Linked DNA regions of Homo sapiens. The protein of the gene in region 7 interacts with the protein of the main gene of each other region in a pairwise test. Each region holds a gene or a part of one and is shown on either strand. Other genes may lie near its edges. The genes, in order: KIF9, BYSL, CDC37, NTAQ1, EIF4E2, FAM90A1 and MIPOL1.

Region 1 (3,500 bases), on a different chromosome or scaffold from region 7:
AGATACTGAAGCTTTGACAGTGGGATATTAAGGGTATTGCTCCAAAAACAGGAGCATGGATGGTTCACATACTAGAGGAATGTATACACTTCTTATAGGACAGGGCTGCAAAAAATCCTGTCCTATAACACTTCTTATAGGACAGGGCTGTAAAGCTGCCTCTTGGCAGCTTTTGCCTCCTACCTCCGACCAGAGGGTCCTTACAGAACCCAGGCTAGTGGGGCCCAAAGGAAGGCCCTTCTGTCTTATCTTCAGTTATGCTATTGAGACCCCCCGGGCTGACACAGTCCTGAAAGCTCAAGTCATGCCCTCCTTCTTGCTTTTGATCTTTCAGGGGCTGTGGTGGTGAAAAAAGCCAGAGTAGGCCAGTAAGGAAGTTCTGCAAGGGTCTATATGCCCCTCATTAAAACCAGGAAAGAGAATGATTAGGACCTCCAAATCCTTAATTACAGGATCACAGACCACTGGAGCAGCAAGAGGCTGATTAGCATGCCTGACTCCCTCCTTCCCAAATGAGGAAACAGGCTCAGTGTGGGTATGGCTCAGAGTCTGACACCCAACCTCCTGGTTTCCTGAGGCCCCTGACTCTACTGACTCCAGAGCCCTGTGTATGTTGTCTCCAGTACCAGTATCCACTGCAACTCCTTTGAGGCCTGGTCCCCACTGTCTCTAGTAGCTGGCCCAGGGTCAGTAACATCTATGGCAGAGAGAGGGAACCTGTGTGGCATCCCACCCTTGGGCCCACTCTCTACCTGCTGCAGGGCACGAGGGAGGATCCCCCGGTGCTTGTAATTCTCAGTTGCCCCCATCATGGTGTATGTCTTGCCAGCTCCCGTCTGCCCATAACACATGATGGTGCCTGCAAACATTTCAAAACACGGTGACATCCAGGAAAATAGCTCCAAGGATAACTCTCCCCTCTCCCAGCATGCCTGGTGCCAGCCAGGGCCCTTTGCATGAAGATGGCCAGTGGGGGCAGCCAAGAACATCAGGAATTCCACCATGGAAGAGGATGGGTGGGCAGGGGAACAGGGACAAAAGTGGTCAAAACAAGGACATCTGCCCTGAATCTGTGGTCCCCACAATGCTCTGCTGTTCCCTCCACCAAGAGATGATCCGGCCCTAGGGCTTCTGAGAAGGACAGGGAATCTCAGGGTACAGAGGAACTGGAACTTTTCCTAAAAAGATGAGGAGGGAGATAGGAGCATTAGACTCCAGCCCTTCTCTAGCACAGCTATGAACTGCCAGGGTCTCAGGGTTGGCAGGAGGCATCAACTTCCCCACAGAGGCAAAGAGGGGCTTTCAAAATCTCCAGGAAGAGATGGAGTGGAAAGGGCATTTTCTGTCAAGGGTGAGAATTCTTTGTAGACTACAAATTCCTGCAGGATGAAACAGGGCTCCTAGTTGGTTCCATGTCACTTCCAGAAATGTACCACCATGATCAGGCCCTGATCTGGTCCACTGCCCACCCTGGGAAGACTTTCATTGCACTTCTCAACATCCTTTAGGTCTACCATCACCACCAGGCTCCGGGACACAAACCATGCAGTCACCCTGAGCTCCGGCTCCTATCTGTTCTTCCCCTTAGCATGGGCAGCCTGAGCCAGACCCCATCCCACAGGCTGCCCATGGGCATTTACATGGCAGATCTGCCCAGGCAATGCTGGGCTGTGAAAATTTTTTGCCTTTGTCACACAGACACTCTAGTTCTTGGGACTGGTGGCAGGTTTTACACAAGCGATCCTGATTCAGCATCTGAGTTGGAGCCAGAAATGGTGTCTATTAACCCAACACAAATGAACAGGAAGGAGTCACTTCAGCTGCAAATCAGAGCCCATTTGTGGTTCCACAGCACCAGTGCTCAAGACTATTCATCTCCCTGGGCCTTAGTTCCTCTGTCTTCACCTCCTCAAGGTCACAATCAGAGCATCATGAAAACCAAAAGAGAACCTCCTTAAGTCAGTGGGGACCACACCTACGTATCACATTCAGGATAAATTACAGCATCTACACTCAATGCACTTTTAAATATAAAACCTAAACTTGCAAAACAGGGAACATCCTAGTCAGCAGCCACCAGATGGCAAAGTCTACAAACTGTGACATATTCTTTTATACAATCCTATACTAGAATATCAACTGTACATTGATTGTGTTGGTAGAATACATGAAAATAGCTCCTAGCAGGAAGCTGAGAGACAAATGTTTGGACTCCATCAAATTTGTCATAAAGACGTATCTTCAAAACTAATACTTGAGAGATTTGAAACAGGATAATTGAACCCCTGTGACCTATAGAGAGCCATAGTCTTTTAATTTTCCTATGAAGGTAGAATCCCAGGACATTGGATCAAGCCATGCCCACAATGTCAACAAGCAAACAGTAAGTTTTGCAACGTAAGAACATGGAGACAGACAAACATACAAATGATAGTGAGTGAGCTTTTATTTTATTCACCATAAAATATTTGCATCTCTTACTCCTCAGGTTCTTACATAAGACAACATTTAATTAATTAAGTTACCATTATAGCCATCGAGGGCCTGAGAAACCACATCCTTTGCAACTGTCTCATAAACCAAGTCCTGGGAGGCATCGTGAAGAACTCCATCCAACTTAAACGACCAGTCTGTCTGTTGGTTATTGACAACTCCTCTCCGAATGTCTTTTTTTAAGTGAATATCAATGCTCTAGGAAAAAAGAGTGAGAAAGAAAAAAATGTTATTTGTTCAAAAATGGGTATAAAAAAAATCACTGATAGCTGAGGCCTAATCTGGAGGGAACAGAGGAAATGAACTGTAGGATGAATGGGGACTCCCACGTAGGGGCTGATATTCCAGATGAATTCTTTGGGATGGGAGAAGAGAGTTCCTGCAGGGAGATGGAAAGATCAGGAGAGTGGAGCACTTTCTAGTTTTAGCACCTCTAACCCTAGTTCACACGGTGCTGTCTTTGTTTCCCCACCTATGATATGAGGTCAAATTTATCATGTTCTTATTAAACAAGTTTTAGATAGATTCCATAAGCATAGGGAGGCCTTGAATTATGCCAGAGGGAATAGTGAGCCTGGTAACAGAGGCCTGGGCTCCAGCCTCATTGCTCTGGTTGCTGGCAGTGAGGCCTCCCTCAGCTCTGCATTATGGTGAACATCTACTTCCACACACACGCTATGAGCCAAAGTGAGTGATGATGAAATGAAAGCCACAGAGAAGGCTATGGACTTCTCAGACATAGGAATTAAGAGTAAATTGAGGGTGTCATCAGCAGATTTTTAGATGCATGCCCCTTCATAGTAAGCCATTGTAGTAGCAGCTGGCTTAGGGACATACTGGGTAAGGTCAGTGGTAGATTCCAATCTTCTTGATGAGAACTTCTGATGTAAAGACTCTTGCTGAAATCTTACACTGACTGCCCTAATGCAGGAGCTATACCTGGCTACAGAGAGAAAAATTAAGATGAAGAAAGACAGACTTGGCCGGGCATGGTGGCTCACGCCTGT
Region 2 (3,500 bases), on a different chromosome or scaffold from region 7:
GATATCTCTGATCTCTACTTCTAGACTCCAGTAGCAACCTTCCCCCAGTTGTGAAAACCAAAAATGACATCAGACATTGCCAAATGTCCTCTGGGAGGCAAGACTGCCCCTAGTCAGGACCACTAATTTATTCCCATCTATAATAAATGCTAGCTCCAAAACATGCAGGCATTTAGACTGCCTGTGGTCAAACTCCTGAGCCCATAAATTTTGGCCCTTGGGAGTGGAGTCTAGGATAAGGGTCCTCAACCAGTTCATTCTGACCCTGTGATATTAACATAATGGTGTCCCTGATACTTTAGGCTGTTTTGGGCTAATGCATCTCATTGCTAATCATACTATAAAAGGACAGGGAGGCTGATAAATTCTGTGGCAGCTTATTTGAAAATGCAGAATGAAGAAATGAAAATGAGCCCCTCTCCCAGATTGATGCCTAACAGTTGAAATATATGTCATAAAGTATGTACTTGGGCTTGTCCCCCCAGAGAGCCTCTCAGGTTCTCACTCAGCACCTCATAACTCCTACTTCACTGATAATGCTGACCAATTTAGCAGAATGCTTTTCCAGCTTGTAGTAAATAGAGTAGACAAGCTCCTTGAAGTAATCAGAACTCCTGGCAGTCGTAAGAAATGATAGCTGGCATCTTCAGAAAGCAAGCCTAGATCCACATGAATTCAACAATCAGAGGCCATTTAGTTTGGGGGCACATTATAAGGTACTATAAAGCACCTTAACTCAAGACTTCCAAAAACCTGAGTTTGACTCTTACCCCCACCTGACAGCTGTGAGGCCTTGGGTGAGTTATTAACCTGAGGCCCAGTTCCCATGTCTGCATAAGTTTCCGTGTCCTATAAGTGTTGCGCTGACTCTAGGACTGAAAAGTCCCAAACTCAGTGCCTGGCATTGAGTAGGACCTCAGAAAAGAGGAGCAGTTTGTTTTTTGTTTTGTTTTGTGACAGGATCTCACTCTGTCACCCACGCTGGAGGGCAGTGGCATGATCTCAGCTCACTGCAACCTCAGCCTCTCGAGTAGCTGGGATTACAGGCACGTACCACCACGCCTGGCTAATTTTTGTTTTATTAGTAGAGACAGGGTTTCACCATGTTGGCCAGGCTGGTCTCAAACTCCTGACCTCACGTGATCCACCTCCCTCAGCCTCCCAAAGTACTGGGATTACAAGCGTGAGCCACTGCGCCCAACTGAGAAGCAGCTTTAAATACATTTCAGTCTGGGCATGGTGGCCCAGACCTGTAATCTTAGCACTTTGGGACGCCAAGGCAGGAGCCCAGGAGTGTGAGACCAGCCTGGGCAACATGGGGAGACCCCATCTCTACAGAAGAATAAAAAACTAGCTGGGCCTTGTACTATGTTCCTGTGGTCCCAGCTACTCGAGAGACTGAGGCGGGAAGATCGCTTGAGCCAGAGAGATAGAGGCTGCAGTGAGCCATGATGGTGCCACTGCATGCCAACCTGGGCAACAGAGGTAGACTCTCTCTCAAAAAAAATAAATAAATACACTTCAGCAGCCTCTGAAGATGCTAGTATTATATGACAGCTCAAGGCGATGGTAATTCTGAATCATTAAGATAAGATTATGTTTGATACACCCAACAATACTGTTTAAGGAGGCTGAAAAGAATATAATCAGTCTTAGAAATATTTCCATAGATAACGCTTACTGTGTACTGACCATTCCAAGTAATGAACAGACATTAACTTATTTAATCCTTCCATTAATCTTTTAAGGTGGGTACCGTTATTATCCCTATTTTACAAATGAGGAAACAGAGGCATAGAGAGGTAAAGTAACATGCCCAAGATCATACCAGGGAGTGGGTGAGCCAGGATTTGAACCTGGGCAGACTGACTTCAGAGTTGAGGTTCATAATAACCTCCGTACAACTGCTAGCTTTGTCCTAAATGGAATGACTTTCAGTTCCTTTGCACCCTGCAGTGATTCTGTCTGTGGTGGATGAATGGGCACAGAGAGAGAACTCTAAGCTGCATATCCCAGCAGGATCGCAGTATGGCGGTGCTCACAGGGGACTGTGGGGAGTCTGGAGCTTCCTGGACAGTGACCACAGTGCTCCTTGCCCCCTCTCTCCCCTCCTCTTGGCACTTCCCCTCTTAGGCGCACCCTGGCTGACATCATCATGGAGAAGCTGACTGAGAAGCAGACAGAGGTTGAGACAGTCATGTCAGAGGTGTCGGGCTTCCCTATGCCCCAGCTGGACCCCCGGGTCCTAGAAGTGTACAGGGGGGTCCGGGAGGTAAGAGCTGAGAGGGGAGCCATGGTGGAAGACCCCTTTGGGGGCTGTGGGCTCCTGCCACAGGCTTTTTTGCCTTTTGCCTGCATCACATACTAAAGAAGTCATGGGAGTAGAAAACAGACCTAAGAGGCAGAGTGTGTGGGTTCAGATTCCTGCTCTGCCTGTAAATGACTTGGCATCCTTGGGTCGGTTACTGGAACTCTCACTGGTCATCTGTAAAATGAGCATAATAATGGCACCTCCTTATAGGTTATTGTGGGGATGCAATGAGTTAATATATTAAAAGCACCCAGACAAGTTCCTAGCCCACAGCAAGCTTGCCATATGTGGATGACGATGATTGTTTTACCTCCCTCATCCCTAGGTATTATCTAAGTACCGCAGTGGAAAACTGCCCAAGGCATTTAAGATCATCCCTGCACTCTCCAACTGGGAGCAAATCCTCTACGTCACAGAGCCGGAGGCCTGGACTGCAGCTGCCATGTACCAGGCCACCAGGTAGAGTAGCTGGGGGTTCGGGGGCCTTGGGTTTATAGGTGCAGGCTGAGTTTGGGACGGACAGGCTTTCCTTGCCTCTGGCCCCAGGGCATTTGAGCTTTGCCCCAGGGCCCTCTCTGTGCTACTTTATAGCATCATTTTTCTAGCTTTTCCTGTGTCATTTTTTGGGGCCAAGACCCAGTTAGCCAGTTAGGAACCCTCCGTGATGAATTTCTAGGGGAGAGGCTTTTATAGCTACTGGGATACAACCCTCTGTGATGAATTTCTAGGGGAGAGGCTTTTATAGCCACTGGGATACAACCCTGTAGCAGGACCCTCAGAAGTCTGTGACTGCCCAGGCATGCTCAGGGCTACTCAACTGATGCTGAGTAGCCATCAGTTTGCACGAGCTCTGGCTCTCCCACAGACAAACGGTGCTCCTCATTTGGGTATATCTCATTGCCCCTCCTATTCTCTCTCTAAGCTGATGGGTGTTGCATGCACACAGCTCCCACACATCCCCCACTGAAAGAAAGGTCCCATATTTTACTTTAAAACCTCTTGTATGCACTATCCATGGTGATATTTAATGGGCCGGGTCCAGACTGTCGTGTGAGTTGGAAACTTCCCCCGCTTAACTCCCACTAGGATTTTTGCCTCTAACCTGAAGGAACGCATGGCCCAGCGCTTCTACAACCTTGTCCTGCTCCCTCGAGTACGAGATGACGTTGCTGAATACAAACGACTCAAC
Region 3 (3,500 bases), on a different chromosome or scaffold from region 7:
TTCCCCAAGTCTATTCCTGACCTACATGAAGGGCTCCCCAAGGCCTGGGCTCCCCCGCCGGGGACCTCATCTGGCATTTGCCAAAGACCACCTGCTTGGGAGCCCTGCTCTACTGCAGATCTGAGACACTCATGTCCTCAGTGTCCCTGCATGGGCACCTCTAACTCAACATGGCCACCTCCCAGCCTGCCTTGTCCTTGGTCTCCCTAATCTCGGTAAGGATAGCCCTGTTCCTCCAGGTACGCAGGTTAAAAATCCTAGAGGCTAGGCCGGGCGCGGTGGCTCACGCCTGTAATCCCAGCACTTTGGGAGGCCGAGGCGGGCGGATCACGAGGTCAGGAGTTCGAAAACATCCTGGCTAACACGGTGAAACCCCGTCTCTACTAAAATACAAAAAATTAACCGGGCATGGTGGCACATGCCTGTAGTCCCAGCTACTCAGGAGGTTGAGGCTGGAGGATCGCTTGAACCCAGGAGGCGGAGGTTGCAGTGAGCCGAGATCGTGCTACTGCACTCCAGCCTGGGCAACAGAGTGAGACTCCATCTCAAAAAAAACAAAACAACAACAACAAAAAAACCCTGAGGCTGGCAGGCACCTGTAATCCCAGCTACTTGGGAGGCTGAAGCACTAGAATTGCTTGAACCCGGGAGGCAGGGGTTGCAGTGAGCTGAGATCACGCCACTGCATTCCAGCCTTGGTGACAGAGCAAGACTCTGTCTCAAAAATGAACTAAAACCCAAAACCCTAGAGGCACCCTCACCTTTGTCCTTTACCCACATATTCACCTGGGTACCTTCAGCACATCCTACTGCTCCCACATTTTTTTGTAATGCAGTTTTGCTCTGTCACCCAGGCTGCAGTGCAGTGGCAAACCACAGCTCAAACTCCTGAGCTCAAGTGATCCTCCTGCCTCAGCCTCCCAAATAGTTGGGACTATAGTACTCAGTCACCAAGCCTGGCCTGACCTCCACTTTTATTTAATTAATTAATTTATTTATTTATTTATTTTTGAGATGGAATTTCGCTCTTGTTGCCTAGGCTGAAGTGCAATGGCACGATCTCGGCTCACAGCAACCTCTGCCTCCCAGGTTCAAGCGATTCTCCTGCCTCAGCCCCCCGAGTAGCTGGGATTACAGGCACACACCACCATGCCCGGCTAATTTTGTATTTTCAGTAGAGATGAGGTTTCTCCATGTTAGGCTGGTCTCAAACTTCCAACCTCAGGTGATCTGCCCACCTCAGCCTCCCAAAGTGCTGGGATTACAGGCGTGAGCCACTGCGCCCGGCCTCCACTTTTAAAGTCTGGCAGAATCTGCCCACTTCTCTCCTCCTCCCTGGCCCCACCCTCTCCTGATCTAGGATGCGGTGACTGGAGGGGCTTGAGTCCCAGTGGAGAGGAGTCGGCCTTACCTAGAGCATTGTGGGCTGGTTCCCTGGGGAGGGGGCCTCCAGCCACCTGGCAGCTCAGGGACCCTACCTTAATCTTAGTGAAGAACTGCCGGAAGCAGGCCCGGGGGTCCACCTTTAGGCTCTTGGCCAGCTCCAGGATAAATTGCATGACGATTGTCTGGTGGGCCACCTGCTCCATGAGTGCACATTTCTGCCAGGAAGAACAGGCACAGCGTCACCAAGTGGCGGCCTCATGGCAGCGCCTTTTCACAGTCCCGGGGAAAGCTCCACTCACCTCCTCCACCTCTAGGTCAATGCACCAAATGACCAGGTAATTGGCTGTCTCCTCGCACACCAGGTGGACGTTGTCTGACAGGTACTTTTGGCTGTCATCCCAGCGGCGAAGCATGCCTGTGGGAAGATGCTGGCAAGGTGCTGGAGGGCCCTGGAGGCAAAGGGCCTGCCTCGACCTTGCCCCCCATAACCCACAAGCCCCACTCACCAAAGTGCTTGATCTGTTTCTCGTATTTTTCCACGAAGGTCTTGTGTTTCTGCTCCCTCACCTCCTCTGAGTCCTCCTCCGTCTTCTCGGGCTTGGTATTTACCATGCTCTGTGGTAGGGTGAGAGGGGGAGTGGGCTGGGGCAAGGCTGCGGAGCGCCTCGAGCGCGGCCGGGCGGGCCGTGGTCGCAGCGCCCATCCCATCCACGGCGGAGGTGGTGACGAAGCCATGAGCATCAAGGTGGCGGGAGCGTGGGCATGGGCCTTGGGGCAGATCAGAGGAGGGGACCGGTGGGGTGTTTCATCCGCCCGGCCCCCCAAGCCTGTCCCCCCTCCCACGTGGCCCCCGTCCATCCCTCAGCTCCCCGCCCCCCACCACACTCTTCAACTACACCACCGGGGTCCTCCCCTGACCAGGCATTGGGTGCGCATGCGTCCTGGTTGCAGGCTCTCTGGCTGCGCATGCGCACTGCCCGCCCCGCCCGCCCCGCACACCTTGCTGAAGCCGTCTTTGCTGAGCGTGTCCACGTTCCAGGGCATGCTCTTCTCCTTCTTGCGCATCTCCTCCAGCTTCTGCTCCCAGCTCCGCTCCTCCTTGCGCAGCTGCTGTGCCTCGGCCTGCAGGCGCTCCAGCTCTGCCTTGCCGCCCTCGGCCACCTCCAGCTCCTTCAGTTTCCTCTGGCACTCGGCCACCTTGCGCTTGCACTCGCGGCAGCCCCTGTCCAGTTCCTCCTTCTCCTTCTGGAACTGCTCCATGCGTTCCACCCGGGCCTGCGGGCAGGGACGGCCTATCAACTCTGGGGAGTCGTCTGTCCCTTACCCCCGCCCCATACCCAATCCCTGCACCGGAGATGGCCCCAGGAAAAAGTACGCGTCCACCTCCCGTGCCCTGGTCTCCCAGCTTCCGCCCCTGCGCCCACAGGTGCCAGCGCACACCCAAGTGGGGTCAGGTCCCTCCGTCCTCTGCTCAGAACCCTGGCGGCTCCCATCTCACAGCAGAACCCAAGTTGTCACCACAGCCTACATGGGCCCTACACAATCTGCCTCGGCACCTCCCCTGGTAACTCTTCCTTCCAGCTACACCAGCCCCTCACTTTTCTCACCTTTTCTTGAGGCCATTTTTTTTGTTTAAGAAAACAAAACAAAACAAAACAAAAAACAGGGTCTCACTCTGTCGTCCAGGTCAGAGTGCAGTGGCCCAATGATGACATACTGCAGCCTCGACCTCCCTGGGCTCAGGCGATCCTCCCACCTCAGTCTCCCAAGTAGCTGGGACTACAGGTGTGCACCAGCACGCCCAGCTAATTTTTGTATTTTCAGTAAAGATGGGGTTTGCCATGTTGCCCAGGCTGGTCTTGAAGTCCTGGGTTCAAGCGATCCTTCCCTCTCGGCCTCCCAAAGTGCTGGGACTACAGGCGGGAGCTACTGCACTCTGCGGAGCCCACTTTTTTCTTGAACCTCAAGGCCTTCGCACTGGCTGTTCCAACTACTTGGAATGCTTTTCCTTCAGAGCCCCCCACAGCTGACTCCATGGCACCCGTGCCATCTGGGCTCCATGTTGCCTTAGCGAGGACCCCTTCCCCAACCACCTTCCTGATGATGGCAACTTC
Region 4 (3,500 bases), on a different chromosome or scaffold from region 7:
CTCTCTTTCCTTCCTTCTCTTCTTTTGTTTTCTCTTCTCTTCTTTTTTCTTTCTTTGTCTTTCTTTTCCTTCCTTTCCCTCCTTTCCTTCCTTTCCCTCCTTTTCCTCCCTTTCCCTCCTTTTCCTTCCTTTCCCTCCTTTTCCTTCTCTTCTGTTTCTCTTTTTCTTTCTTTCTTTCTTTTTCTTTCCGGAGGGTCTTGCTACATTGCCTAGGCTGGTTTCAAACTCCTGAGCTCAAGTTATCCTCCCACCTCAGCCGAGGCATTGGGATTACAGTTGTGAGCTACTGCACCCCACCTACAGGTATTTTTGTTTCAGCTGTGACTCCTTGTATTTCCGAGTATAAGATCATCTCCCCCTTTTTTTTAACATTGAAACTTTCATGGGATTCTCCTACATGATATTCGTTATGCTCTTGAAAAACAATTGCTGACTAAAAGGGACTAAAAAGTCAGTGACTTTTACGAAGTTTACATTTTTTTCTGTGTAACATTTACATATATTTCAAAAATAACAGTGTATGTTCAAGCCACATTATGTATTCAGCTTACCAGTGGTGCTTGTGGTATCTGTGGATTCATGAACTCTTTGTAGTTTTTATTATTATTATTATTATTTTTAATTTTTAGATGGAGTCTTGCTCTGTCACCCAGGCTGGAGGAGCAGTCGTGCAATCTTGGCTTATTACAACCTCTGCCTCTCGGGTTCAAGTGAGTCTTGTGCCTCAGCCTCCTGAGTAACTGGGATTATAGGTGCATGCTCCTACGCCCGGCTGATTTTGTGTTTTTATTTTTATGCGTTTTTTTTTTTTTTTTTTGAGATGAAGTCTCACTCTGTCACCCAGGCTGGAGTGCAGTGGTGCGATCTTGGCTCACTGCAACCTGTGCCTCCCGGGCTCAAGTGATTCTCATGCCTCAGCCTCCCAAGTAGCTGGGATTACAGGTTTGTGCCACCACGCCTAGCTAATTTTTGTATTTTTTTTTTTTTAAGACGAAGTCTTGCACTGTTGCCTGGGCTGGAGTGCAGTAGCACGATCTCAGCTTGCTGCAACCGCCGCCTCCCAGGTTCAAGCAATTCTCCTGCCTCAGCCTCCTGAGTAGCTGGGATTACAGGTGCCTGCCACCACACCCATCTAATTTTTTGTATTTTTAGTAGAGACGGGGTTTCACTATGTTGGCCAGGCTGGTCTTGAACGCCTGACCTCATGATCCACCCGCTTCGGCCTCCCAGAGTGCTGGGATTACAGGCGTGAGCTGCTGCGCCTGGCCATTAATTTTTGTATTTTTAATAGGGTTTCGTCATGTTGGCCAGGCTGGTCTTGAACTCCCAACCTCAGGTGATCCAAGGTCTTAAACTTCTGACCTCAGGTGATCCGCCTGCCTTGGCCTCCCAAAGTGCCTGGATTACAGGCATGAACCACCTCGCCTGGCCCCTTTGTATTAACTCTAAGCCCACCCTTAGAGGGGAATGAACAAAGAGAAACTACAACCTATACCTCTTCCCATATCCCTCCGAATTAATGACACCCTCTTCCTTTCTGCATGCATCTTTTATGGCCTTCTATGATGCTTGCCAGTTATGGATTTGTATGTCTCTGCTCATGGTCTGTAAGCTCTAATTTATCATCATATCCTCCAAGCACTTAGCACAGTATTTTGTACATTATAAGCTCTTGAAGGTATTTGCGGTAAACTCCCGAAAAACTTGTATAAGCCAGAGAGATAATTGTCTTCTTCAAACCTGGCCTTAGAACATTTAGATTAAGGAAATTTTATTGTGACGTAATATGACATATACCATATGTCATGTTGAAACAGTCAATAAAATTTTTTTTTTTAGAGGTTGTCTCTCTCTGTCGCCCAGGCTGGAGTGCAGTGACACAATCTTGGCTCACTGCAACCTCCGCCTCCTGGTTTCAAGCGATTCTCCTGCCTCAGCCTCCCGAGTAGCTGGGATTACAGGCATCAGCCACCACGCCCAGCTAATTTTTGTATTTTTAGTAGAGACAGAGTTTCACCATATTGGCCAGACTGGTCTCAAACTCCTGACCTCAGGTGATCCACGTGCCTCAGCCTCCCAAAGTGCTGGGATTACAGACGTAAGCCACCATGCCCGGCCCAGTCAGTAAATTTTTATTACTCTATAGTACATATCATATGAAGTAGTCAGTAGCAGTAGCAATCTTCCCACCCCCCCACTTTTTTTTTTTTTTAACCACAACCATCACTTTTCCCTTGTAGTTTCCTAGTTATTTTAGAGAAAAGGAAAACCATGGGAGAAAAACATGTCCAACTTCCGTATTTTAAGCCTAGTTTTATAGAGCATTTGAGACAGGCAAGGCAAAGATTGATGAACTGAAAGAGTGTCTACTTCTGTAAGATGGTGACCATCCTCAGGGCTGTTCATGCCTTGCTTCATTTTTAGGTAGCATGGCGTGGATGAAATTAGGCTTTGGGCCGGGCGTGGTGGCTCACACCTGTAATCCCAGTATTTTGGGAGGCCGAGGCAGGTGGATCACCTGAGGTCAGGAGTTCAAGACCAGCCATGGCCAACATGTGATGGCCAACATGTGAAACCCCATCTCTACTACAAATACAAAAATTAGCCAGAAGTGGTGGCATGCATCTGTAGTCCCAGCTACTTGGGAGGCTGAGGCAGGAGAATCGCTTGAATCCAGGAGGTGGAGGTTGTAGTGAGCTGAGATTGTGTCACTGCACTCCAGCCTGGGTGACAGAGCGAGACTCCGTCCCCGCTCCCCCCTGCAAAAAAGAAACTAGGCTTTGACAGACTGAGCCACATTCTGTGAACAGAGTGTTAGTGTACCTCATTTTGAGCAAAGGTGCGTGTATCTTACTAGAAAAAGATAGGAACCCAACAGCTGAGCTGTGAGTACTGCCCGAAGTGACTGGTTTCCTGTGCATGGAGGTGCAGCTCAGTTACTGCTCTGTTTGATGTACTACTGGGCATCACTTTACTTAGGTGGGTTCTGACTACTGCTTCAGATAGCCAAAGACCTGTCACGTAGAAGAGAGATTCATCTGGGGCAAAGGTATGGGAAGATTGATTTCAGTTCAGTATGAGAAAGAACTTTCTAAAAATCAGGCCTCTTGAGAAGGCCAGGCACAGTGGCTCATACCTGTAATCCCAGTACTTAGGAAGATTGAGGTGGGAAGATTGCTTGAGCTCAGCAGTTCAAGACCAGCCTGAGCAACATGGCAAGACCTTGTCTCCACACACACAAAAATAATTTTTAAAATTAGTTGGGTGTGGTGATGTGCATCTGTGGTCCCAGCTACTCAGGAGGCTGAGGCTGGGAGTTTGAGGCTGCAGTGAGCTGTGGTTGAGCCACTGCACTTCATTCAGCCTGGGCTATGGAGTGAGACCCTGTCTCTAAAAATAAGCATAGGCTGGGCACGGTGGCTCACTCTGTAATCCCAGCACTTTGGGAGGCTGAGGTAGGTGGATCACTTGAGATCAAGAGTTTGAGACCAGCCTGGCCA
Region 5 (3,500 bases), on a different chromosome or scaffold from region 7:
GGAGAAAATATTGCAAATCATATCTAATACTTGTATCTAGAATACTCTTACAACTCAGTTATAATCTGCTTAATATGAAATCAACATCATTACTATGCTGAGCTGATAAAATTTCAGCCTAAAGCAAAGATCTTGTTTAGTTTGCCAGTGCTATCTTAGAATCAGCAAACTTAGGGGTTTTGTAATAATAAACTACCTTGTGCACTGGTTCATATTTGGTTCAATAAATGCTTGTTGAATGAATTCAAGGCTCTAGTAGGCTTCTAAAAGGAATGAAGGCACAGATCCTGTCCTTGGGGAAATAAGATGTGCCCAGGAATTTCTAATACAGGGAAGACAGTAAGTGATACTATGGGAAAGGCATTTAGAGTGCTCTTGGAGTTTGGAGGAAAGAAGGAATTGATTCCAGTTTGGGGAATACTGCCTTGGAAGAGATGGGTTTAAGATTGATTTTAAAGAATTTGGCCAGGCCTGGTAGCTCATGCCTGTAATCCCAGCACTTCGGGAGGCCAAGGTGGGAGGATCGCTTGAAGCCAGGAGTTCAAAACCAGCCTGGGCAACATAGTGAGATCTTATCTCAAAAAAAGATTTTTTTGGAGTAATTATGCATACTTCTTGCATTTTTATTTCCCTCTTGTGAAAAAAAAAAGCATATAAGAATTTACCCAAATTGTACGAGGAGGGTTTTTCTTTTGTTTCAGTGTATATGTTAAGGAGTGGTTTATCATCAGGACTATCTTGGGTTAAGGCTTCATCCATGCTCACTGGATGTGTGACAGTATTTAAAGTCTGTCATTTTGACTCTGTAGGTCTGGACCTGAAAAATAGAAATAAAGTCTGTTGTGTAATTCAGGTCACTAGGAAATGGCTCACAATATTAAATGCATCACAGATAAATAATTACATTATGAATCCTTTTATCAAATTGAAAGCAGTGTTTCCCAGTGATTCTTAGCCTAATCATTAACAACATTTAAAAGTTCTTGAAGTCAGAGTGACTAGGAAGGCATCATCTTGAAATGGAAAGAGCACTAGACTTGGTAATCAGAGCTCACCTATTCTGATGCTTGACCCTCTTGGTTAGAGCAACTCAGTCCTGAAACCTTTCTCAACTATAAAACAAGTTGCTGACATGATTTCTGAGGTCCTTTCGGCACCTCATATTCTGAGTCTGTGAATGCTTATTTTTTTTTTTGGTTTCAATTAGAACTGTCAAATCTTTTAAAGTTTAATAATATTTCTCAGGCCAGGCACAGTAGCTAATGCCTGTAGTCCCAGCACTCAGGGAGGCCAAGGAGGGAGGATCACTTGAATCCAGGACTTCAAGACCAGCCTGGCAACAGTGTTAGACTTCATCTCTACAAAAAAAGTAAAAAAATAGCTGGGCATGGTGGTGCCCACTTGTGGTCCCAGCTACTCAGGAGGCTGAGGCAGGAGGATTGCTTGAGCCTGGGAAGTCGAGGCTGCAGTGAGCCATGATCACACTGCTGCACTCCAGCCTGGGTAACAGAGCAAGACCCCATCTCAAATGATGAATGAATGAATGAATGATAGTCTCGAGCTGTTTAACTTCATCTCTCTTATGGTTTGCATATAAGATTGTGCAGTGGGGCTGGGCGCGGTGGCTCACGCCTGTAATCACAACACTTTGGAAGGCCAAGGCAGGTGGATCACCTGAGGTCAGGAGTTCGAGACCAGCCTGGCTAACATGGTGAATGGTGAAACCCCATCTACTAAAAATACAAAAATTAGCCAGGCGTGGTGGTGTGTGCCTGTAGTCCCAGCTACTCGGGAGGCTGAGGCAGGAGAATCACTTGAACCCAGAAGGCAGAGGTTGCAGTGAGCTGAGGCAGGCTGCACCATTGCACTCCAGCCTGGACAAAAAGAGCGAAACTCCATCTCAAAAAAACAAACAAAAAAAAGATTGTGCAGTGTAGTTGTAAGATTGGGGAGACCAAACTGTTAAAGCGATTATTGACTGGGGAACTGGAGATGGTTGACATACTTTGTCCTCACCAAGCCCCTTTCAGTTCCTTATTCACAATGAGCCACTAGTGGGTGTACTTGGTTCTAGTGGGTATATGTGGTTTTATTCAACTATGTTAGGGTGGATAAAGGTTTACATTATTGCCGATTGTATTCATATGACCATTTACTATTCCGAGTCACTACATGCAGCTAAGCTTAGCAGTTGCTGAGTATAAAGCACTGCCTTGAAGCCCTATAGATGGCGTTAGTTCTGACTTCTTTTTACCATGTAAGATGCATCACGTGTGCTTGTGCTAGAGAGGAACTAAAGGGACAGCCATTTCACGCAGTGTAAGGCTGATTTCTCCTTAGGTGCTCCCCATATCTAGAAGTATGACCTGAATCTTTGTCTACTCGATACCCATTGTCAGCTCCACAGTTGTGGTATCTTGCTGTATGTTGATTTAGAGCCTGCTCAGCAGTTTAGCAGATACCAGCTATTTCTCATTGGAATGTTCCGTGTTTTCTCTTTCCTCCTAAAGTGTGCCTCTTCACTGGCCAGTACTTACTACGTATCCTCTGTGAATAAGGAAATAATCTTTCCTATCAAGACACTAGTGAACCTGTAGTCCCAGCTACTTGGGAGGCTGAGATGGGAGGATCCCTTGACACCAGGAGTTAGAGGCTGTGATGAGCTATGATCATACTGCTGCGTAGACCCTGTCTCTTTTTTTTTTCTTTTTTTTTAAGGGGAGGGGGGGTGACACTAATGAGAAAAACAGGACTACTGTGATGAATACAAATAAGCATATACTTGATGGAAAAATATAAATCTAGTTTTCTCACGGGATTGTGAAGGAGCGGCAAGGAGAAACATAATTTTTCTAGCTAAGAAGAGGGCCTTAAACCCTAGCTATGAGAAGCTAAGTCCTGTATGATTTTGGATTGGCCTGGACTTAGCAACAGCACCATGATGTAGAGTGGTATGTGTGGTACATGTGGTTGATTCTATCACTTACGCTTAGTAACTAAACAGGTCTAAGAGGTATTTACATGTGGTTGATTCTATCACTTATGCTTACTAACTAAACAGGTCTAAGAGGTATTTCATTCAGCAAATGCTATATTTGCCAGTTAAACAATCTTTCATCGGTAAGTGATTTGGTTCTAAAAAATGCATTCAGGCTGAGGCTGTGTGACACTTACATACCTCAAGGCTAAAGAGTTTCCATTGTGCAAAAACCTGGTCCTCTTACTGCATGTGATGACTACCCTGCAGCTTGAGTGGGAGAGTGCGTATTAACATGGTTTCACCAACTAAAGCTCCTGGCTGAGGCTTGCATTTCTCACCAAAGATTTTATTCTTGAATTGCGAATGTTACATTTTTTATTTTGTCAAACTAGATGGTATGTTTTTCCTCTAATATGTCTTCCCTCACAACACCACACATGAAAATGAGTCCTCTGAAAAGGACAGCCTGTAGTATAGTGTCTTCCATGCTTATGTTCTTAACTAAATCTCAACCTTGGGA
Region 6 (3,859 bases), on a different chromosome or scaffold from region 7:
CCAAAGAGTTCTGTCACCACCACCCAGGTTGCTTTTCCCATCCAAGGTGGGCGTGGCTTGGGACCTCCTCCCCGGCCCGATAGGCCCCTTGAGAGACTCTTGGGGGCAACCTCCCTTTCTACTTAGAGTCCTGTGTAGCCACGTTTGGCTGTGTTGTTGACATCGGGTTCACCATCGTGCCCCTTAGGACCTTGAGTCCTGCCTTTTAGAGTTCCTCCGTCACATGGGCTTTGGGAGGGAACATCGTATCCGAACTCTCCCAGCACTTAACGGCCCCCATGCCGGTGTCCCCTCTTTGGAATCCTTATTCAGCTCTGAATTCACAATCCGTCTCAATGTTGACGTGGGATCGGTGCCTGTGGCTTCAGCTCACTCACTGACATCACTTCCTTTCCACCCACAGCTCAAGTGCAAAAACTGTGAGGCCTTTGGCCACACGGCCAGAAGTACCAGGTGCCCCATGAAGTGCTGGAAGGCAGCCCTGGTTCCACCGAACTTTGGGGAAAAGGAAGGGAAGGAAAACCTGAAACCATGGAAGCCCCAGGTTGAAGCGAACCCTGGGCCCTTGAACAAGGATAAGGGAGAGAAGGAAGAGAGACCAAGGTGAGCAGTGGGAGTGGTTTTCACCACTCTTAGGGTACTGCCTCCTAAGGACATGGTGTCTCTGCACCTGCACACCGTGTGCCTTTCCGTCTCCGGGCCAGGGAAGGAACGCTGCAGAGAAACAGACCGGAGCTCTGTGTCTTCCGGAGTTCCACACCCAAGAGCTCCTTTGGCTCTGGGAGATTCAGGGACGGGGAGGGGCGGGGGCGCTTCGTGCAGGTTCCCCACGACAGGGGGAAAAGTGATGGAATCCAAATCACAGTCCTTAGTTGGGAAGCCTAGAGGGCCACCTGGAGGATGGGAAGGTTGGCACGTGAGGGAAGGTGCAGAGGCGGAAAGGGCACCAGATGTCCATTTCTGTATCACAAAACACGGAATGGGACTGGGCCCCAGACAGGGTTCTCCCCGTCTCCTGGGGAAAACCAGGGAGGACGGCCTGACCTTTTTCTGTTCTGCAGGCCACAAGACCCGCAGAGGAAGGCTCTCCTCCACATATTTTCCAGGAAACCTCCAGAGAAGCCGCTGCCAAATCAAAAAGGATCCACGGAATCTTCTGATTATCTGAGGGTGAGGGTCACCCTGGGCCCCTGGTCTTTTTCTCCTCTAGGTCACCCTGGTTGATTTCCTTTCAGCTTCCCGTCTGCGGGAGGGAATCGGGGAACCCCTCTTTCTTGCCTTCTTGGGGTCAGACACTCCACGATCCTTCCAGGTCAATTTGATTCCAGGCGAAGGCATCTGAAGATGCCGTATTTCCTGTTGCTTTCTTTCTGTCCAATTATGGCAAGCCTGCCAACAACACGTTCCTAGCGGCATGAGGAAATTAGTCCCTCAGAGGCCCCAAACGTGGAGAAGGCTAAACCCAGGAACATGCATATGTTCAGAGAAGACGTCCTGAGTACCCTTGAGCCACCAACCTGCCTTCGGAAGGGCATCAGTCGGTTCCACTTCATGGAAGGCTGAGTGGAGGCGCTTTGATCCAGCTAATGCCTAAGACGCAATCTTTTGAACAATGGTGTGCTTAGATCAGCTACACATAGCTCGAGAGCGCATCTTTCATGTGTCTTGTCCTGATCAGCACTCAGGTGGAGGGTCTGTCCCTACTTCCAAGGACCGCCTGTCGATAGTGTACTAAGAATTTCATGGCGTGTGCACCTTGTCTTTGGATGTGGTTGATTTTCATGTTGGCTCCATGCTGAGGAACTTCTAACCTGTGTTGTTTCCTCTCTTTCAGGTTGCAAGCGGGCCAATGCCGGTCCACACAACCAGTAAGAGGCCGCGTGTGGACCCTGTCCTCTCTGATCGCTCAGCTACCGAAATGTCTGACAGGGGCTCCGTCTTAGCTTCACTGTCTCCCCTCAGAAAAGCCAGTCTGAGCTCCTCCTCAAGTCTTGGACCAAAGGAAAGACAGACAGGGGCTGCGGCCGACATCCCTCAGACTGCAGTCAGGCACCAGGGCCCCGAGCCTCTCCTCGTGGTGAAGCCGACACACAGCAGCCCTGCGGGTGGCTGTCGAGAAGTTCCCCAGGCTGCCTCCAAAACCCACGGCCTGCTCCAGGCCGTCAGCCCCCAGGCACAAGACAAACGTCCTGCGGTGACCTCACAGCCCTGCCCACCAGCCGCCACACACAGCTTGGGCCTAGGCTCCAATCTCAGCTTCGGGCCAGGAGCCAAGAGATCTGCCCCGGCTCCGATTCAGGCTTGCCTGAACTTCCCCAAGAAACCGAGACTGGGTCCCTTCCAGATCCCCGAAAGCGCCATCCAGGGAGGTGAGCTGGGGGCCCCGGAGAATCTCCAACCTCCGCCAGCCGCAACCGAACTTGGACCACGTACGTCACCCCAGACAGGCACGAGGACACCCGCCCAGGTGCTTAGCGGCGACCGGCAGCCTCCGCACAGCAGACCTTGCCTGCCTACTGCCCAGGCCTGCACCATGTCCCATCACCCAGCGGCCAGCCATGATGGGGCCCAGCCTCTCAGAGTGCTCTTTCGGAGACTGGAAAACGGACGCTGGAGCTCCAGCCTGCTGACGGCCCCCTCATTTCACTCTCCTGAGAAGCCGGGAGCCTTCCTCGCTCAGAGCCCTCATGTCTCAGAGAAGTCTGAGGGTCCCTGTGTTCGTGTCCCACCAAGCGTCCTCTATGAGGACCTTCAGGTTCCCTCCTCCTCAGAGGACAGCGATTCTGACCTGGAGTGAGACTGCAGGTGGCAGGGGCTCCTTGGCCTCCAGCTCCCGTGACTTGGAGGGGACTGTGGGACTGAGGAGCACAGAGCAGAGAGCAGACTCTGTGCGGTGACTCCGAAGCTCCCCGGCTGTGGCCCTTCTGTGGATGTGGGAGCCCAGGCCAGGCAGGGAGCAGATGCAGGGACTCTGCCACGTTGAATTCTGGTGAGGGACATTGTAGTTCGCATGGTTCTCTGGAAACGCGCCAGGAAAAGCTTCCGTGCCAGTGATTCGTTGCCTCAGAAACTGCATGACGCGCAGGAGTCAGACTTCCGCTGGGACGTCAATAGGAAACGGGGGAATTACTGTGTATTTGCTCTCTAGACGACTGAATAAGGGAAAAGTTAGGGAACCCTGAGAGGTGCAGCCCTTCCGCTGTGCCCCGCCCTGAGAGCAGTGTTTCGGACGCTGGGAAGCGCGCTGTGCAAAGCGCTCTCGGGGTCTTTCCTCAGCCTCGAAAAGTGGGCTCTGGAATCCCTTTGTAAATAGGTGTGTTGAATTTGTTTTGAAGTGAATAAAATTCTCAAAAAGATGACATATTGTCTTTTGACTTTCATTCCGTGTTTGTGTTTAACTGATTTTCCAAGTGAAGGGGTGGCCTGCCCCTCCACACCTGTGGGTGTTTCTAGTCGGGTGGGATGAGAGACGGAGAAAAGAAATAAGACACAGAGACAAAGTATAGGGAAACAACACTGGGTCCAGGGGACCGGCACTCAGCACACCAAGGACCTGCACCGGCACCGGCCTCTGAGTTCCCTCAGTTTTTTTTATTATGATTTTCATTACTTCAGCAAAAAGGAATGTAGTAGGAGAGCAGGGTGATAAGAAGGAGAAGGTCAACAAAAAAAACATGTGAGCAAAAGAATCTATATCATAATTAAGTTCAAGGGAAGGTACTATGCCTGGACGTGCACGTAGGCCAGATTTATGTTTCTCTCCACCCAAATATCTCAGTGGAGTAAAGAATAACAAGGCAGCACTACTGCCAACATGTCTCGCCTCCCGCCACAGGGCAGCTTTTCTCCTAGCTCAGAG
Region 7 (3,500 bases):
TGAATATGTGACTATCTTCATACAAAGGAGAAGTATTTCCTCTCAACGAGCTAAAACAATAAGTGGTATTTGAACTGCTGGTTGAAAGGTAGAGGCACTGGTAATCATTATTTCCCCTTGTTTGTTCAGCCCCTTCCAACAAAACAAACAACCTTTTTGTGATTGGATTGACATGGTGTTAACAATGCATTTAATGCCCAAATCAGTATGAATACAGGTAAAGCTCTCACTAATACCAGTACCAGGATGTTAAAGCCACCTATTTTCTAAGCAGCCAAAAAAAAAAAAAAAAAAAGGAGAGCTTCCCCTCCTTTGGCAAATAAGCCAGTATGCTAGTATTCACCAAGATACATCATATAATAACCTTGTGTGTGATTCTTCAAGCCATGTGTTAATACTCCTCTACTATACCTGCTGTCTTTTCAGCAATTTTAGCTTCTGTTTCTTTCTCTTGGAGTTCCAGCTTAAACTTTAGTTTTCTCTGTTCTTTATCTTCTTTAGCCAATTTCTGCTGAAGCTAAAGCACATTGAAAAAAATCATGGATTCTTATTTGACAAATGTCTTGCAAAAATATAATTAATTTCAAAGTTTTTGGTTTTTTCTTAATTCTTATATTATATTTAACTTCCTAGATAGATAACTCCAGAAAAAAATTTAAAATTTAAGTTATTTATAAAGTAATAATTACCTGTAGTTATACAGAAATTGTAAAAACATCCCAATATACACTTAATTTATGTGTATATGTGCATGAACAGGCAAATTAAATTCAGAGGACCAACATTATTCTTAAAAATAACTACTGCAGTTCAGATGTGGTTGCTCACGCCTGTAATCCCAGCCCTTTGGGAGGCCGAGGTGGGCAGATCACCTGAGGTCAGGAGTTTGAGACCAGCCTGGCCAACATGATGAAACCCCGTCTCTACTAAAAATACAAAAAATTAGCTAGGTGTGGTGGCGGGCACCTGTAATCCCAGCTACTCGAGAGGCTGAGGCAGGAGAATTGCTTGAACCCAGGAGGCGGAGATTGCAGTGGGCTGAGATCGCGCCATTGAACTCCAGCCTGGGCAACAAGAGTGAAACTCCATCTCAAAAAAAATAATAATAATAATGACTACTGCAAAAGCAGTCTCATTCATCCTTTTTTCTTAATGCAAAATATTTGGAAGGGATTTGCCTAATAAAATAACAGATAGCACTGCTTTACAGTTTATCTTAGTAAATCCAATATTCTGAAACAAAATTAAGACAATAATCTTAATATCTGATACAAATCTCCCTTTGAGAATACTACCCCATCATATTCCATTTAAATTGACACTGACACCTGACTCATAAGTGGCATGTAATAAATAACTGCTAAATGAAAGTACAGAAAACATCTCATACAGAATCCCTCCACATGTTTTTTTAATTCCTCCCTAGGTTTTTGTCATTTTAGTTGTTTTCCTCCAAACATGATCAACATTCCTAACATCATGCTTCAGTTTGATTAGGTTACACAACTAGAATATTAAAATCAGAGCAGTATGTAGAGGTTAAAAAAAAAAGAAGACACAGAAAATGCACATTATTTAATAAAATTATTTAATGATCACATGACTATAACTAGAATAAGAGTCAGAACAGAAGATAAAACATAACGTGACAAATTGGACTGGACAAAATGCAGCAGTATAAGATTAACACAAGGTAAATGACAATATTGCCAAGCCTTGCTACTGAAATGTTTAATTACATGTATTATTGAGGTCAAATATAGGGCATGGATACTAATAAAGAAAAAAAAATTAAGATAGTAACATGAAACCAGTGCATTCTATCTCCCATTCTCTATAATACTGAAGCAGAGTTTTACTAAAACTTGAATCTTTTTTTTTAAAGATATGTATACAAGGAACCAGGGGCTTATGAAAAAGGAAGTGCTAATGTGGACCAGCAAGGTATGAAATCAAAAAAATGCTTTCATTTTCAACCCCTTAACTCAACCATACCCTGATGGCAAGGTATGGCAAAAACATAAAGCTACTGTTAAATGATTAAAGTGCAAAATAAAACTGAATTATGATGGGCAACAAAGGAAATTTAGAAGATCAACAGCTAAACCCATACTATACAATTATCAGACTTTCCATATTATACCTTTTTATTGCTTGTTCTGAGAATATCCAATTCTTTTAGAAGAAATGCTATTGTCTTCTCTTTATCTGAGTCTGAAGTAACTTGACAAGGAGTCATACATTCATAATGCATATCATTATGTCTATGTTCCATAACGCTGTAATAAAGAAACTGATTAACATTTCAGAGTAAGATAAACTAATTTTTTGACATTTTGTATGCTACTTGAGAACAGTATCAACTTGTAAGCAAACACCATAAAGGAAGGGAAAGGAAAAGAGATGGGCTGTTTTTTTGAAGGCCTTATATTAAATTTGTAAGCACAGGTAAATTTTGGAGTCACTAAGAAGAAATTTAGTGACGGCTGGGACAGTCAGTGCAGCTCTATTTACCACGTACATCTCCTGTTGTAATTATGCTAGATATCTCATAATCTGACTTTAGCCCAATCTCTACTATTTACTTTACCCATGTGGTTATAAAATGTTTATCCCTACTTCATTCTTCTGTGCTTCTACTCCTCAAAAGGGACTCCAACCTACACCTTAGTAAGAATCTGAAAAAGGGATGGGAACATATCAATACATCTATTTCATTATATGTTACTATCTATTAACATATCTACTGAATAATTTGAAAGTAGAATAAAAGTTCCTATGCAAAAATCTGTTAAAAATAGTATGCTGCAAAATATTATTTTGTCTAGACTGAAAATATATTAGTCACTGAAACTTCTTTTTAAATCTAATAATATTTTTCTAGCACATGACTAATTATCAAAGTTCCTTAATCTCATGGGTAGAAGTATCAGGTATCACAAATTCAAATCCTTTCATGAGCTAGGTAGGCAAGGTTACTGGGTAAAAGCTGAGAAAGTAAAATAATGAGGAATGCAAATGGTAGAGAACAAGGCCCTTTTAAAAGCATCAAATTCATTTAAATGAAAAATAGCGCTAACCCAAACCAAAATGCATGTTTGGGCTTACCTTGTCCTGGAGCTGCCAGTTTTTTACTTTCATGAATGATATGTCATGTATATCAATTTAACAGTTATTTCCAAATACATAAAGAAAGGTCACAGAAAATAATATTGAATAAAATAGAATTAAACCTGTCTTTCTTCAGATGCACTTTGTGCTTTTTCACTTAGTTAACTAGACATATTATATCCATACCATGGAAACAGTAGAAAACCCTGGTAGATTCGCCAAGTTCTAATAAGTTTAGAATTAGCCAACACCAAAAAGAAAGAAGGAAAGAGGAAGAAAGGGAAGAAGGGAGGGAGAAAAAGTTCTTCCAATTCTAACTTTCTCTTTTTTTTTTTTTCTTCAGACAATCTTGCTCTGTTGCCTAGGCTGGAGTACAGTGGCACAATCTC

The links.
Region 1: the proteins of MIPOL1 (region 7) and KIF9 interact in binary tests that used the Homo sapiens proteins (3 or more experiments, as listed by UniProt).
Region 2: the proteins of MIPOL1 (region 7) and BYSL interact in binary tests that used the Homo sapiens proteins (3 or more experiments, as listed by UniProt).
Region 3: the proteins of MIPOL1 (region 7) and CDC37 interact in binary tests that used the Homo sapiens proteins (3 or more experiments, as listed by UniProt).
Region 4: the proteins of MIPOL1 (region 7) and NTAQ1 interact in binary tests that used the Homo sapiens proteins (3 or more experiments, as listed by UniProt).
Region 5: the proteins of MIPOL1 (region 7) and EIF4E2 interact in binary tests that used the Homo sapiens proteins (3 or more experiments, as listed by UniProt).
Region 6: the proteins of MIPOL1 (region 7) and FAM90A1 interact in binary tests that used the Homo sapiens proteins (3 or more experiments, as listed by UniProt).

What each region holds. Positions count from the first base shown.
Region 1 is NC_000003.12:47,272,800-47,276,299, forward strand, and holds part of KIF9 (kinesin-like protein KIF9), read right to left. Parts: intron 2,692-3,500; coding exon 2,526-2,691; coding exon of another isoform or gene 2,509-2,525; exon of another isoform or gene 2,429-2,508; intron 860-2,428; coding exon 753-859; intron 1-752. UniProt on the Homo sapiens protein: Essential for normal male fertility and for progressive motility of spermatozoa.
Region 2 is NC_000006.12:41,927,999-41,931,498, forward strand, and holds part of BYSL (bystin), read left to right. Parts: intron 1-2,133; coding exon 2,134-2,272; intron 2,273-2,636; coding exon 2,637-2,770; intron 2,771-3,397; coding exon 3,398-3,500. UniProt on the Homo sapiens protein: Required for processing of 20S pre-rRNA precursor and biogenesis of 40S ribosomal subunits. May be required for trophinin-dependent regulation of cell adhesion during implantation of human embryos.
Region 3 is NC_000019.10:10,393,543-10,397,042, forward strand, and holds part of CDC37 (hsp90 co-chaperone Cdc37), read right to left. Parts: intron 2,662-3,500; coding exon 2,386-2,661; intron 2,002-2,385; coding exon 1,893-2,001; intron 1,802-1,892; coding exon 1,686-1,801; intron 1,602-1,685; coding exon 1,479-1,601; intron 1-1,478. UniProt on the Homo sapiens protein: Co-chaperone that binds to numerous kinases and promotes their interaction with the Hsp90 complex, resulting in stabilization and promotion of their activity. Inhibits HSP90AA1 ATPase activity.
Region 4 is NC_000008.11:123,423,274-123,426,773, forward strand, and holds part of NTAQ1 (protein N-terminal glutamine amidohydrolase), read left to right. Parts: intron 1-3,500. UniProt on the Homo sapiens protein: Mediates the side-chain deamidation of N-terminal glutamine residues to glutamate, an important step in N-end rule pathway of protein degradation.
Region 5 is NC_000002.12:232,560,689-232,564,188, forward strand, and holds part of EIF4E2 (eukaryotic translation initiation factor 4E type 2), read left to right. Parts: intron 1-3,500. UniProt on the Homo sapiens protein: Recognizes and binds the 7-methylguanosine-containing mRNA cap during an early step in the initiation. Acts as a repressor of translation initiation.
Region 6 is NC_000012.12:8,220,760-8,224,618, reverse strand, and holds the end of FAM90A1 (protein FAM90A1), read left to right. Parts: intron 1-403; coding exon 404-603; intron 604-1,061; coding exon 1,062-1,170; intron 1,171-1,834; coding exon 1,835-2,797; 3' UTR 2,798-3,359; downstream 3,360-3,859.
Region 7 is NC_000014.9:37,267,437-37,270,936, reverse strand, and holds part of MIPOL1 (mirror-image polydactyly gene 1 protein), read right to left. Parts: intron 2,280-3,500; coding exon 2,144-2,279; intron 518-2,143; coding exon 412-517; intron 1-411.